Linked DNA regions of Homo sapiens: all the other regions are reported to be linked to region 1. Evidence: microRNA targets listed by miRTarBase, many of them from high-throughput screens and not tested one by one. Region 1 holds a microRNA gene; each other region holds the end of a gene's coding sequence.

The links. The annotated mature microRNA hsa-miR-3913-5p reads UUUGGGACUGAUCUUGAUGUCU and lies in region 1 at 2,210-2,231, shown strand. An mRNA with a match to its seed (bases 2 to 7 or 8) in the 3' UTR can be bound and repressed. Matches are read on the target gene's strand: a 7mer-m8 pairs with bases 2 to 8, a 7mer-A1 pairs with bases 2 to 7 and ends in A, and an 8mer does both.
Region 2: miRTarBase lists DHDDS as a target of hsa-miR-3913-5p. Seed matches in the 3' UTR shown: 7mer-A1 at 1,052-1,058 and 7mer-A1 at 1,604-1,610.
Region 3: miRTarBase lists THAP5 as a target of hsa-miR-3913-5p. Seed matches in the 3' UTR shown: 7mer-A1 at 1,042-1,048.
Region 4: the mRNA of WWTR1 is a reported target of hsa-miR-3913-5p. Seed matches in the 3' UTR shown: 7mer-A1 at 1,436-1,442.

The regions. Positions count from the first base shown.
Region 1 is chr12:69,582,535-69,585,534 of GRCh38, forward strand. MIR3913-2 (microRNA 3913-2) reads left to right here and starts at 2,189; the gene lies at 2,189-2,288. CCT2 (chaperonin containing TCP1 subunit 2) reads left to right here and starts at 2,925. Exons shown (of 16, transcript NM_006431.3): 1 at 2,925-2,990. The coding sequence starts at 2,988. It overlaps MIR3913-1 (microRNA 3913-1), which reads right to left and starts at 2,289; the gene lies at 2,188-2,289. RefSeq lists an enhancer at 2,956-3,000.
Region 2 is chr1:26,468,800-26,471,974 of GRCh38, forward strand. DHDDS (dehydrodolichyl diphosphate synthase subunit) reads left to right here. Exons shown (of 9, transcript NM_205861.3): 9 at 96-2,507. The coding sequence ends at 332. Among named protein-coding and RNA genes, the nearest start is that of HMGN2, 2.1 kb to the right of the region's middle. RefSeq lists enhancers at 2,248-2,956, 2,957-3,175 and a silencer at 3,036-3,175.
Region 3 is chr7:108,561,341-108,564,340 of GRCh38, reverse strand. THAP5 (THAP domain containing 5) reads left to right here. Exons shown (of 3, transcript NM_001130475.3): 3 at 1-2,209. The coding sequence ends at 150. Among named protein-coding and RNA genes, the nearest start is that of THAP5, 6.9 kb to the left of the region's middle.
Region 4 is chr3:149,518,262-149,521,436 of GRCh38, forward strand. WWTR1 (WW domain containing transcription regulator 1) reads right to left here. Exons shown (of 7, transcript NM_015472.6): 7 at 1-2,728. The coding sequence ends at 2,544. Among named protein-coding and RNA genes, the nearest start is that of TM4SF4, 45 kb to the left of the region's middle.

The DNA of each region.
Region 1 (3,000 bases):
ATGAATTCAGGAGTTCAAGACCAGCCTGAGAAACATGGCAAAATCCCGTCTCCACCAAAAATACAAAAAATTAGCTGGTGTGGTGGCGCATGCCTGTATTTCCAGCTACTCGGGAGACAGGTCGGAGGATCGCTTGAAGTCAGGAGGCAGAGGTTGCAGTGAGTGGAGATCACACCACTGCACTCCTGCCTGGGTGACAGAGTAAGACCCTGTCTCAATTAAAAAATATATATATAGGTGTGGTGGCTCATGCCTGTAATCCCAGCACTTTGGGAGACTGAGGTGGGCAGATTGCTTGAGGTCAGAAGTTCGAGACCACCCTGGCCAACATGGTTAAACCCTGTCTCTACTAAAAATACAAAAATTAGCCAGCTGTGGTGGTGCATGCCTGTAGTCCCAGCTATTTGGGAGGCTGAGGCAGGAGAATTGCTTGAACCCGGGAGGCGGAGGTTGCAGTGAGTTGAGATCATACCACTGCACTCCAGCCCGAGCGACAGAGTGAAACTCTGTTTCAACAACAACAACAACAACAAAAAAGTATAAACAGCTAAAAGAGACAGTTTTTGGTAAACCAGCACATTGATCACGCTCTGAATGGCCTTCAATGAACTGATTTAAAGAGCCTGTGAAACCCACCCAAGACTACAAAGCTAGTACGTAAAATGGTTGAAATTCAAACTCATATAGTCTGGGTCTAGAAGCTGAGTGTTTAGCCTCTAGGTGTAGAGGTGTCATCAAAGGAGGGGGAAGTAGGAAAGAAGGAAGGGTCAAAAGATGCAATGGAGAAAGGACACATTTCCAAGGGTCCCATCATAGAGTCTCTTCCTGGCTGCCTCTAGCCTCAGTTCCACAAGGTGGCAGGGCCTGCCTCCTTCTCCCCATCCAAATGCCTCTGGCTACATTCAAAGCCCAGCAGGGAGCAGTCATTGGTTTCCCCATCACACACAGTCTCAGGCTTGCCTACCAGAGGACATAATAAATATCTCCAGGTATGTAATTTTGCCCACAATAAAAACAACCTTTTTCAATATTGTGCAGGCATCTTAGTTTTTTATTGTGAATCTTCTCATTCCAGAATGCGATTTGGGATCTGCCTAGGAAAGTACATTTCCTGAAAGAAGACCAAATTTTCCTACAAAGAAGAGAAAACTCTTGGGAGATTTAAAATAACAATTTGTCCAGCCTGAACTCCCCTTTTCATGTTGGACCTGAGGAATACTGTAAACCAGGGTCAGCAAACTTTTTCTGTAAAGAATTAGATAATACATGTTTTAGGTTTTGTGGGCCCATTCAACCTGTCATGACTACTCAACTCTGCCACATAACTCTGCTATCGTATTGTGACAGAGTAAATATGTATGGGTATGCCCATGGATTCCAATGAAGCTTTATGGACACTGAAATATTAATTTCACAGGATTTTCATGTGTCAGGAAATTTTTGATTTCTTTCAACCACTTAAAAATGTAAAAACTATTCTTAGCTCTCAGGCCATACAAAAAACAACTGGCAGGCTGGGTTTGACTCCTCACAGCTTGCCAACCCCTGGTGGAAATCAACCCACTTAGAGGAAATCTGAAGGGTAGAAACAACTAAAAAATTGAAAATTCCTGTTAATGTTAGCAATGTCAAAAATCCAGGAGACCCCAGCTACTCAGGAGACCAAGGCAGGAAGATTGCTTGAGCCCAGGAGTTCCAGGCCAGCCTGGGCAACATAGAAGACCCCATCTCTAAAAAAAACAAAACAGAAAAAGAAAAATCCAGGAGCTTGTTTTGTTTTGTTTTTGTTTTGAGACAGAGTCTCGCTCTGTTGCCCAGGCTGGAGTGCAGCGGCGTGATCTCGGCTCACTGAAACCTCTGCCTCCCGGGTTCAAGCAATTATCCTGCCTCAGCCTCCTGAGTAGCTGGGATTACGGGCATGCACACCACGCCCGGCTAATTTTTGTATTTTCAGTAGAGACAGGGTTTCACCATGTTGGCCAGGCTGGTCTCCAACTCCTGACCTCAGGTGATCCGCCCACCTCGGCCTCCCAAAGTGCTGGGATTACAGGGGTGAGCCACCGCGCCCTGCCGAGGAGCTTAAGCGATCAGTTAGTCAAAGGGAGAAAAGAGGGTATCAGTAGATGACAGAAAAATTTTTTAGAGAACAAATTTTTAGACATCCGTCAACTTAGAGAAAGTAGAAAACTGTCTATAATAAACTGAAATATTTGGGACTGATCTTGATGTCTGCCAAGGTTTTGGCAGACATCAAGATCAGTCCCAAATATTTCAGTTTATTATAAACAAAGACTAATAAGTCGTCTCTACTATTGGAGGAAAAAAAAAAAAAAGACCGAAATGCAAAAATTCCTGAAAATGAGTAAATAGGGCAAAGATAAAATACTATAAATGTCTCTCTCAGTTCACAAGACCTTATCCTGGGCAGTCAACGTCCAGTTAGAAATAACGTCTGAAAATTCAGTAAGAGAAAAGGAAGTCTTCTTCTGTAATACTCAGTAAATAATGTTTAAAATTAACATAGCAATAATATTATCTGGGAATATGATAGTAAATAGCCCCTCCAAAAAACTGAAAAAGTTGAAAGCAGTTTTCCTGGAGACAGGAAGTGGTGAGGCAGATAAATTATGTTTTTCCTTATTGGTATATAACACTTTAAACTGTGTACATGTGTGACTTTAATAGAAGTGTTTAAAGATTAAATTTAAGAAAATAAAAAGTGTGAGCAAGAACTCCATTTCTATGGCAACCCGCGCGGCAGCCGCCTCTTTGTTCTGGAGCGGCGGCCACGCCCCCTCCAGTGTGAAAGGCTGCGTTTCCGGCCCGTGGGGCTCCAATCAAAATGGGACGCCTGCTGGCGGTAACGACAGGCCGGGGCCCCGCCCCCCGAAGTAGGGCGTGTGGCGTCACTTCCGGCTTCCTTCAGTCCGCTGGTCCCGAGCACGAGCTGTGAGGGGATTCACTTGTGTGCGGAACTCCTCGGAACCATGGTGAGCCTGA
Region 2 (3,175 bases), not on the chromosome of region 1:
GCCCACCCTGTGCCCCACCCCCTACCTCCTCCATCCCAGTTTCACCCACTCCTAAAAATGATCTCCCCACCCCAATCCCCACTTTTCTCTAGCAGAAGGCCCGAGACATGTATGCAGAGGAGCGGAAGAGGCAGCAGCTGGAGAGGGACCAGGCTACAGTGACAGAGCAGCTGCTGCGAGAGGGGCTCCAAGCCAGTGGGGACGCCCAGCTCCGAAGGACACGCTTGCACAAACTCTCGGCCAGACGGGAAGAGCGAGTCCAAGGCTTCCTGCAGGCCTTGGAACTCAAGCGAGCTGACTGGCTGGCCCGTCTGGGCACTGCATCAGCCTGAATGAGGCTGGCCACCTGCCACTTTGCCCTGCCCTCTGCCTCCAGGGCTCCACTCCCCTTCCTTTTCTTGGTGAAAGGCACCTCCTTTCCTGATAATGAATGGTGTTCCCTTTGCTTGGCTGGGGAGCCCCCCAGGCCAGGTTTGCTGGCCATAGATACCTTTGGGCTGCCTGGGACAGGCTCCTGAGGAGGATTGAGGGTGAAAGTCTCCCACGAGTACACTAAACCTAGGTCTGGTCACCAATAGGGTTTGGAGAGCAAAGGGCCACAACTCATCAGCTGCCTGTCTCTTAGATGCACTTTCTTTTTCCACCAGCACATCCTTCAACACACAGAATTTCAGGGAAGAGTTCTCCCCAAAACCCTAGCTCTTTACCCTTCCATTTTAGCCTTCCACCCAGCTTCCACAAAAGATTTGGCTCTACCTTGGATCTGCTAGTAAATAACTAATAGGCAGGCAGTTATTTGGGTAAGGAAAAAAGGGGTGGGAGAGACAGAAAATTTGCCCATCTGCTGCTCCTCCCCCTTGGCTCTCCACCTGGGATTTGCTATTGAATCTCTACCCTCTCCCACCACACAGTACTGATTGCTCACTGAAAGACTCAGCACCCCCAATGGTGCGCGGAAGCCAGGCGGGCGATTACAATCCAATTACCTATTGTCGACTCAGCCCACACAAGCTTTTCTCCTCCTCTTGCAGGGCATGGGGCCAGGCTCCACTCCCAAATGAGACTGGCCCCCTCCATGGTTCAGGGTAACAGAAGGGCCTGTAGGCCCTGGTGAACTGAATCCAGCACAGGCCTCCCCTGTAACACAACAGGACTGAGCAGAACCAAACACTTCTTCCAACTGACTCTGCTCCCTGCCCTCACCATCTCAAACTCTGATTCCCACTCCACTCTTCGAGGTTTCTCTCAGCTTTTTGACCTGGCTCCCTAAGTAGGCCCTAGATGATTTATTCTTGGCATGGCAAAGCTTGTTCTAGGTCCTCTGCTTGTGAGGGTCAAAGCTGTGTCCTTTCCCTTACCTCCCTCTGCCAGGACTTGCTGCAGAGCTGCTGAGAGGATTAGTGCCTTTGAAGAGCTGTCTGCCTGAGCAACTCTATTTCAGGTGCCCCACACCGGCAAGTACCAGCCAGCAACACCAACCAAATGCTACTCTCTTTAAAGTCCATTTTCCTTCTTCTTTTTTTTTTTTTTTTTGGAGACAGCATCTCACCCTGTCCTGGCTGGTCTCGAACTCCTGACCTCAGGTGATCCGCCGGCCTCACCCTCCCAAAGTGCTGGGATTACAGGCATGAGCCACCATGCCAGACTTCCCATTTTACTTTCTGCAAGCTGTTTCCCTAGCAGCTCCCTCTAGGGGAGAGGTGAAATCTTGCAAGTTGTAGCAAGAGCACACAGGAAACCCCTAACTTTCCTATACCCCACCCGCCTCTTCCCCTTTCTGTCCCGGGATACCTGGCGGCAAGAGACTTCTTGGCTATTGTCCATGCTCCCAGAATCAAGCATAAATGCCAGACACGGCGATTGAGAAGCCAATCAGTGAACCCTTTGGCAAAGCCCCCATCCACACCTGGCACTCCCCTCTACCAATCCCTGGCACAGGGTTCCTGGAGAGCAGGTGCTGTACATTTTACAGCTTTACAATGGGGCTGTTGACAGCCATAATTAGGGAGGCATGAATTATGCGGCTATAATGCAGAGCCCTACAATTAAGGCGGGAATGAGGGGCTGGAGGCAGCAAACGGAATCTGCCCTATGAGCGTGGCTGTTGAGTCCTGTCTCCTGGGTCTGACTTTCCGTAATATGATTGGGGTACAGTAGAGGTGATTAATGGGGCTGGCATCTCTCTTTGGCCTGAGGTTCTGTATTCTGGGAAAGGTACACAGGGTGGAGTAGGGAGAAGCTGCCCCAGGAGGCGATGTAGTGGTGGAAAGAAGAGGCAGAGAGGTCGTCGTCGTCGCCCAGCAGCAAGGGCTGCAAAATAGTAGAACTCGTGGTTGCTTTGGACAGGTGTGATTTGTGCAAGCCAGGTTCAACCCTTGCCTCAAGAAATCAGATGGGACCAATTTAGTGTCCTTCCACCTGTGAGCCAAGCCCCCATTTGAGGACATCTATCGTATTCTTGTGTGCTGGGTCTCAAATAGAATTTTTAAAGATTCTTAGATGTAAAACTTGTTTGCTAACTGCAACGGAAGAACACCTTCTTTTGCTGCTGCAATTGCCTACCCTCCCTCAGGTGCACTTGGCTAGCTCCAAGACCCTGGCTTTGGACTAGGGGGCACCGGAAGAGCCCTTTTGCCATCACACCACCTGTTCCTCTACTTGTTTCCTAATCCCCGGGCGCTTTCCTCCACCCTCCTTTCCTCGCGCAAGTGAAAGGCAGCCAGCTTGACAGTGTGGAAGGAGGGATTTCGCCAGCTGCGGCTGCAGTGCCCAGGCTTGGTGGCCGCGTCGGGTTGGGCAGCTGGGCAAAATGTCTCCGAGAGGGGTAGAGTGTAGGGGGAAGTGAGTGCTGGTAGACCTCGACGGCCGCTCTCCACCATACTGTGGCGGGGTCTGGAGGTTTGGGAATACAGGGACCTTAAGGGAGCCACCCGAGAGGAGTTGGGGGTGGGGGCTTCGATAGCATTTGGGGAGGCGGCTGCGCAACGGGTGCTGAAAGGACAGCTCCTACCTGACCCACGGCACCCAAAAGGCACCTCTGCATGGAAAGTCTCCCCCTGAAACCCCTAGCCCACCTCGAGTGGGACCGTCTTTCAGGTGAGGTGCACGAAAGGCTTCTCCGAAGTGGCAGCTCGGAAGGATGCACGTCCGGCTGCGCCAAGCTGGTTTCCCCGCC
Region 3 (3,000 bases), not on the chromosome of region 1:
CTTCTAGAGTTAAAAGAGCAACAAACTCTAGGTAGATTGAAGTCTTTGGAAGCTCTTATAAGGCAGCTAAAGCAGGAAAACTGGCTATCTGAAGAAAACGTCAAGATTATAGAAAACCATTTTACAACATATGAAGTCACTATGATATAGAATAACTAGGTTTTAAAACTATGGCTGTTAAATAAGCTTTTTCCAGCCAAACCAAACTACATGTAAAGTGAACTGTTTCCTGTATAAAGTTCTCATCTTAATGAACCTATGAGAGTGTTGTAAAGTTATGAACTGTATCCTATTCTTGTAATACTTATTTAAGAAAAACCAGAGAGTTGGGCTGGAGAGAAAAGCAGTTTTATTACTTGATAATTTTCCAAATTAAAATTTAGCACATAGAAGGATTCAGTTATAACATGAGAAAACAAAGAAGTGTTCAAAGAGCACAGACTAGAAGTCAGGTTCAGGAATCAGTCCTGGTTCTACCACTGGCATATGACTTGGGCAAGTTACTTATGATTGTGCCTCAGTCCCTAATTTGTAAAATAAGCACTTACTGGATTTGTAATTGGTTATTTATAGTCCCTTCCCTTTTTATTAAGATAATTCTATTAGAACACATTTTCTGTAAGATAATATATACGTAATACTAGAAGTTGGCTAGAATTTGATGATATTAACCATGTATTATTTTCAGTATTTATTGAATTCTGTGGTCTTTGACCTTTTGGCTATAGTTACATATTACAGTTATATTATCTGTAATAGAAAGGAAGATAAACTTTTTTTTTTTTTTTTTTTTTTTTTTTTTTGAGATGGAGTCTCACTCTGTAACCCAGGCTGGAGTGCAGTGGCCTGATCTTGGCTCACTGCAGCCTCTGCCTCCCGGGTTCAAGTGATTCTTCTGCCTCAGCTTCCCGAGTAGCTGGGATTATAGGCACACACCACCACATCCAGCTTATTTTTGTATTTTTAGTAGAAACGGGGTTTCACCATGTTGGCCGGGCTGGCCTCGAACTCCTGACCCCAGGTGATCCACCTACCTTGGCCTCCCAAAGTGCTGGGATTACAGGCGTGAGCCACCGCGCCTGGCCAAGATAGAACTTTTATAATTTTATTCCAGTTGAACTAAACTAAGGAACCACCCATTAGCCCAGTTCTTAGGAGAGGTACTTCAAACTTGAAAGAATATGTATTTCGGTAACTTATATGTGGCTAACCATCAAATACATAGTCATCTAAGCTAAACTTTCTGTATTTATACAGTTAAACTTATAAACCAAAAATTTTAATGAGGTTAATTTTAAATATATTTTAGAAATTACAGTTTGTATCTGTTTCTTAGTAGGTGTGGCCTTTAAAATATGTGCTTATTCATTGTTAAATTCCAGAATAATAGAGTAATACTTAATACTGTACATTCCCACTTACGTATATTTTATTAAAATTTATAAGCAAGAAATTATACATAAGTGGTCATGATCTTAGGGAGACAAAGAATTTCTCTTAGAAAAGAGAAGTAATGGTAATGTAAATAAAAATACTGTTTATATTCACATGATTTTAAGAAAACTGTAAAAGCAAAGATTTTGTAGTAATGACACAAATGTAACAAATAGATGTTTTCTTAAAATTGGCAGTCAGTATAATTATGTTTCTGCCTATGATGTTGAGGAAGTTGTATCAGTCTGATTCTTAGTTTTTTCATCTGTTAAGTAGAACGTACTATTACTTACCTTAAAGAGTGGCTTTGAGAATTTTGTAAGGAACAAACATGTTTTTGGTTCTGGAATATAGGAGGTGCTCAATAAAAGTTGACTCTGACTGGCAAATAATATTGTTTTGTAAATGCATGATGATTATTTTTGGCCATATTTGACTTAGTTTCATTAGGCTAATATTAATTGGTACTATATGAAAGTGAGTCAACTAATTATAAAAGATTAGAAATGTCTTAGGTGACGATGGGGGAAAAACTTAAAATTTTTGCATAAATTATGGGGAGATGATAGAGTTATTACAGTGTTATTAAGTATTCCTATGTTGCATTTTGCAAATACTTAATTTAATACAGATGAAAATAATCTTGAGTCACAATAAAGTAATGATATGTTAAGTTTCAACAGTGTACATTGTAGTAATTTTCTGAAAGTTACAGGTTCCTCAGAAAAAATTTAAACTAGCTTTATTTCTTTAATAAATTATAAGTAAAAGTTGACTATCTGAAAATCCAAAATGCTCCAAAATCTGAAACTTTTTGAGCACAAACATGACACGCAAAGGAAATGCTCACTAGGGCATTTCAGTCTTCAGATTTTTGAATTGGGGATGCTCAGCTGTTAAGTGTACTGCAGATATTTCAAAATCTGAAAAACAGTACCCTTTCTGTATTCACGTCCATCCTTACTCTGACTTTCTGGACCATAATAATCATTCTCCGGTAAAACTTTGAACAACATTGCTCTGTTGCCTATTGTTCTCACTTGCCTAAATTACATTCCTGGTTGAATTCAAATATCTCTTTGCCTTTTCTCTTCCTACATCAGAAGAGCCGGTAGAATAGAAAAAAATCACGATTGGACAGACTTGATTATAAATTCATGACCACAAATCAGATGAGCCCAGCAGTGTTACTGTATTTTTCTAGTAAGTTCATAACCCCACACTCAAATTCTGTCTCTCACTCCTCCCTTCCTTTCCTGCCTCTCCTTCCCGCTTGCCCAAGATGAGGATCTCATCACATGCTTCATTTAGAAAATCAAAACAATCATTAGCTCATCCTGCCAGTTGCAGTGGCTCATGCCTGTTACCCCAGCACTTTGGGAGGACCAGGTAGACAGATTGCTTGAACTTTGGAGTTAAAGACTAGCCTAGCCAACATGGTGAAACCCTGTCTCTAGAAAAAAAAAAAAAAAAAAATCAGCCAGGCATGGTGGTGCGTGCCTGTATTCCCAGCTACTCAGGAGTCTGAGGTGGGAGGATTGCTTGAGCTCAGGAGGTAGAGCCTAC
Region 4 (3,175 bases), not on the chromosome of region 1:
TGATGCCACAAGCTTACTAGAAAATTACTTCTAAAAATTGGTAATATAAATCATCAATGATTTACCTACTTTAAAAAAGAGGGGTATCTGTTTCTCTTACATTTAATAACCTGAAAATGAGTCTATAAAAATATTTTTTAAAAATACAGTAACACTGCTGAGTTTTGTTAGGTCCCTTGTTTTTTTAATTTTTTATTTATTTATTTATTTTTAGCAAGAATGTACAATTCTTTTTGCAATTTTTTGCTAACAAAAGACAAAAAGAAATAGTGCTCCCTTCAATTTAGTAGCAATAAAATCATCTATCTTCATCTCTCTCAGAGGGCTTAGGGAGAGTGAAAGGAATTAGAGGAACATAAACCATGGGTCCTTCAGGTAAAATAAGTCATTTCATAGTGATGGAGGCAACAGCAGGCTACGCTCTTGTCTGCCTGTACGCTCAGCATCAGCATGCCCTGCCCCTCCTCCTCCCACATAAGGTGCACCAAAGCCTTCTTTTCTTCTACAACAGAGTCTTCCGGTATAAAGGTGGCAACAGAAAATTGTTGCTTTGTCCTTTTGGGGCATCTCTTGCATCTCCTGCTTGTTTTGCTTTTGGGGTACTATAACTTGTCTCTTTCCATTTCACAACTAGTATCCTTTCCACGATATTCCATAACTTTGCTACTTCATCTCTGACCTTTTCACTTGCCTTCTTTCCAACATGATCCAATGTACTCTGTACATGTATATTCCGGTAGATCAAAAGGAATCTTATTTAAGATCCCCAACAAATAAGTCCCCCATGGAAATTGAAAGTATCCTCTCAGAGACTCAAATTATTAAAGTCTTTCAAAAAAGATTAAATTCATAGATTATAAATAATATTAGTTCAAAATATTAAACAGTTGAGGACTTCATTGGCAATGCAGGCAGACTGCATGCCAGTTGAACATGATGCTCTCTCAGTCCTTAAAAGCTAATTAAAAATGGTTTTGGTTACATAAGAGGTATTGAATACATATTTCATGCCTTTTTATACCAACTGTAGCAAACAGGATTAGGATAATATACTTAGGAATCAATTTTACTGAATTCAGAAACATTTATCTCCACCATACACCCTCAAAGGGCATTTTTTTTTACATGTCAGTCAGAGATCTGCTTCATCCTTCAGTTTCATAGATAGAATTATTTTAAACACTTGAAATCTAGGAAGCAAACCTGACAAGGCTTCAGAATTTAAAAAGCAACAGCTCACTGTGTGTGGTGTGCTATCAGGTTGAAATCTATGTTGTCCTGATGTTTTCAGAGTTATTTCAAAAGACAAAAATACAGTTGCCACTGATTTATCAAAAACATTTGGCTGCCTTTTGTCATCAGCTACAAAATTACAGTGCTTTATAAAATAAACATCAAGGCCGGGTGCGGTGGCTCACGCCAGTAATCCCAGCACTTTGGGAGGCCGAGATGGGTGGATCACCTGAGATCAGGAGTTTGAGAACAGCCTGACCATTATGGTGAAACCCCGTCTCTACTCAAAATACAAAAAATTAGCCGGACGTGGTGGCAGGTGCCTGTAATCCCAGCTACTCGGGAGGCTAAGGCAGGAGAATCGCTTGAACCCAGAAGGCAGAGGTTGCAGTGAGCCGAGATTGTGCCATTGCATTCCAGCCTGGACAACAAGAGCAAAACTCGATCTCAAAAACAAACAAACAACATCAAGAAAAAAAAAAACCATCAGATTCTAAGCTGCAATTTTTTAAATCCCCAGTTGTAATATTTCAAAAACTTTTGTTTGAATAAAATGCTCATAATTAGTACCAAACTGGTCTCTTTCACAAGATCTGTAGTGTAAGACCTGTGACTAATGCTGCTGCTGCTACTTTCCCGCTGGAGGGACTAAGTTGTCTAGATGCTCTGCAGTAAAATAACGAAAGATAAGCTACAATAGGACTGTGTGCCTTTATAAATACAGACTAATAAGAGCCATCAGAGCCAGCATGGATTCAAAATTACATTGTATTCCATACAGTAGAATTTTACTATCCATACAATGATTTTTAAAGCTCAAGTTAAATAGTTTTTAAAGCATTTGGTACTACTGTCATCAATACAGTTTTTGAAACTGTAAATCAGGTCGAATTTTGTGCACATTTCCTGGACCAAGATGCCCTCAGAAGTAACTGCCTGTGGTCAGCTTTTTATGGTTTAAAATCAATTGGTGTATAAATTTCAATTAACACCCATAAAGCTTAGCCATGGGGCAGCAGAGAAGAAAGAGAAAAGTATTCTGCATAATCAATCCTGCAGACACAATTCTGTATAATCTGTCACAAGAACGCAGGCTTGCAGAAAATGAAAATAGAATATTTATTTATGTTTAACTTAAGTTACTCTCAATCAAAACCAGGCAATGATTAAACTGGCAACATAAAAAGGAGGGAGCACGAGTCATGGAGGCGGGAAGTGGTGCACCTGCAGACTTGCTCTGCTCCATCACTTTTTCCAAGAGGCCCAGGAAATGTAAGGTCATGGCTACATCCAAGTTACAATGGTAGTGATTACAGCCAGGTTAGAAAGGGCTCACTTTTGTTCAGAGCAGACTCTACATCATTGAAGAGGGGGATCAGGTCTTCAGATTCCAAAGTTCCTAAGTCAACGTTTGTTCCTGGAAGACAGTCAAGGAAATCAGGGAAACGGGTCTGTTGGGGATTGATGTTCATGGGTGTTTGTCCTGCGTTTTCTCCTATAACAAAATGAAAAGAAACCATTTTAATTCCTTCTTTTAGGCTCTTGAAGGAGGAACAGTTCAAGTATTTACATAACCCTCACCTTCATGTCTTCAACTACCACATTATTGACCCTTACTCATAAGAGGTACAGAGATGTGGAAGAAATCGAAAATTATTTCTGGATAGGTGTGGTCCAGAATGGAAAAGGCCAAGGAGATAAGAAAGGAGCATGTGAAAGGCACTGTGGATCTGATCTATGATCTGTGCCTTCCCATGACAAAGGTGTGAAGAACTGTTTTACAAAAGAGTAGAGAGGCCTTGTCTGTAATAAACAGCTTATTACAGAACTATAATCTACAGGTTTCATTGTAAGCTTAGGTTTACCCATACCATCCTTCTTTATGTTCAAAGAGAATGGTGTGAAGCTTCTTTTAACCAGGCTATTAAAAAGTTGTCTTCAT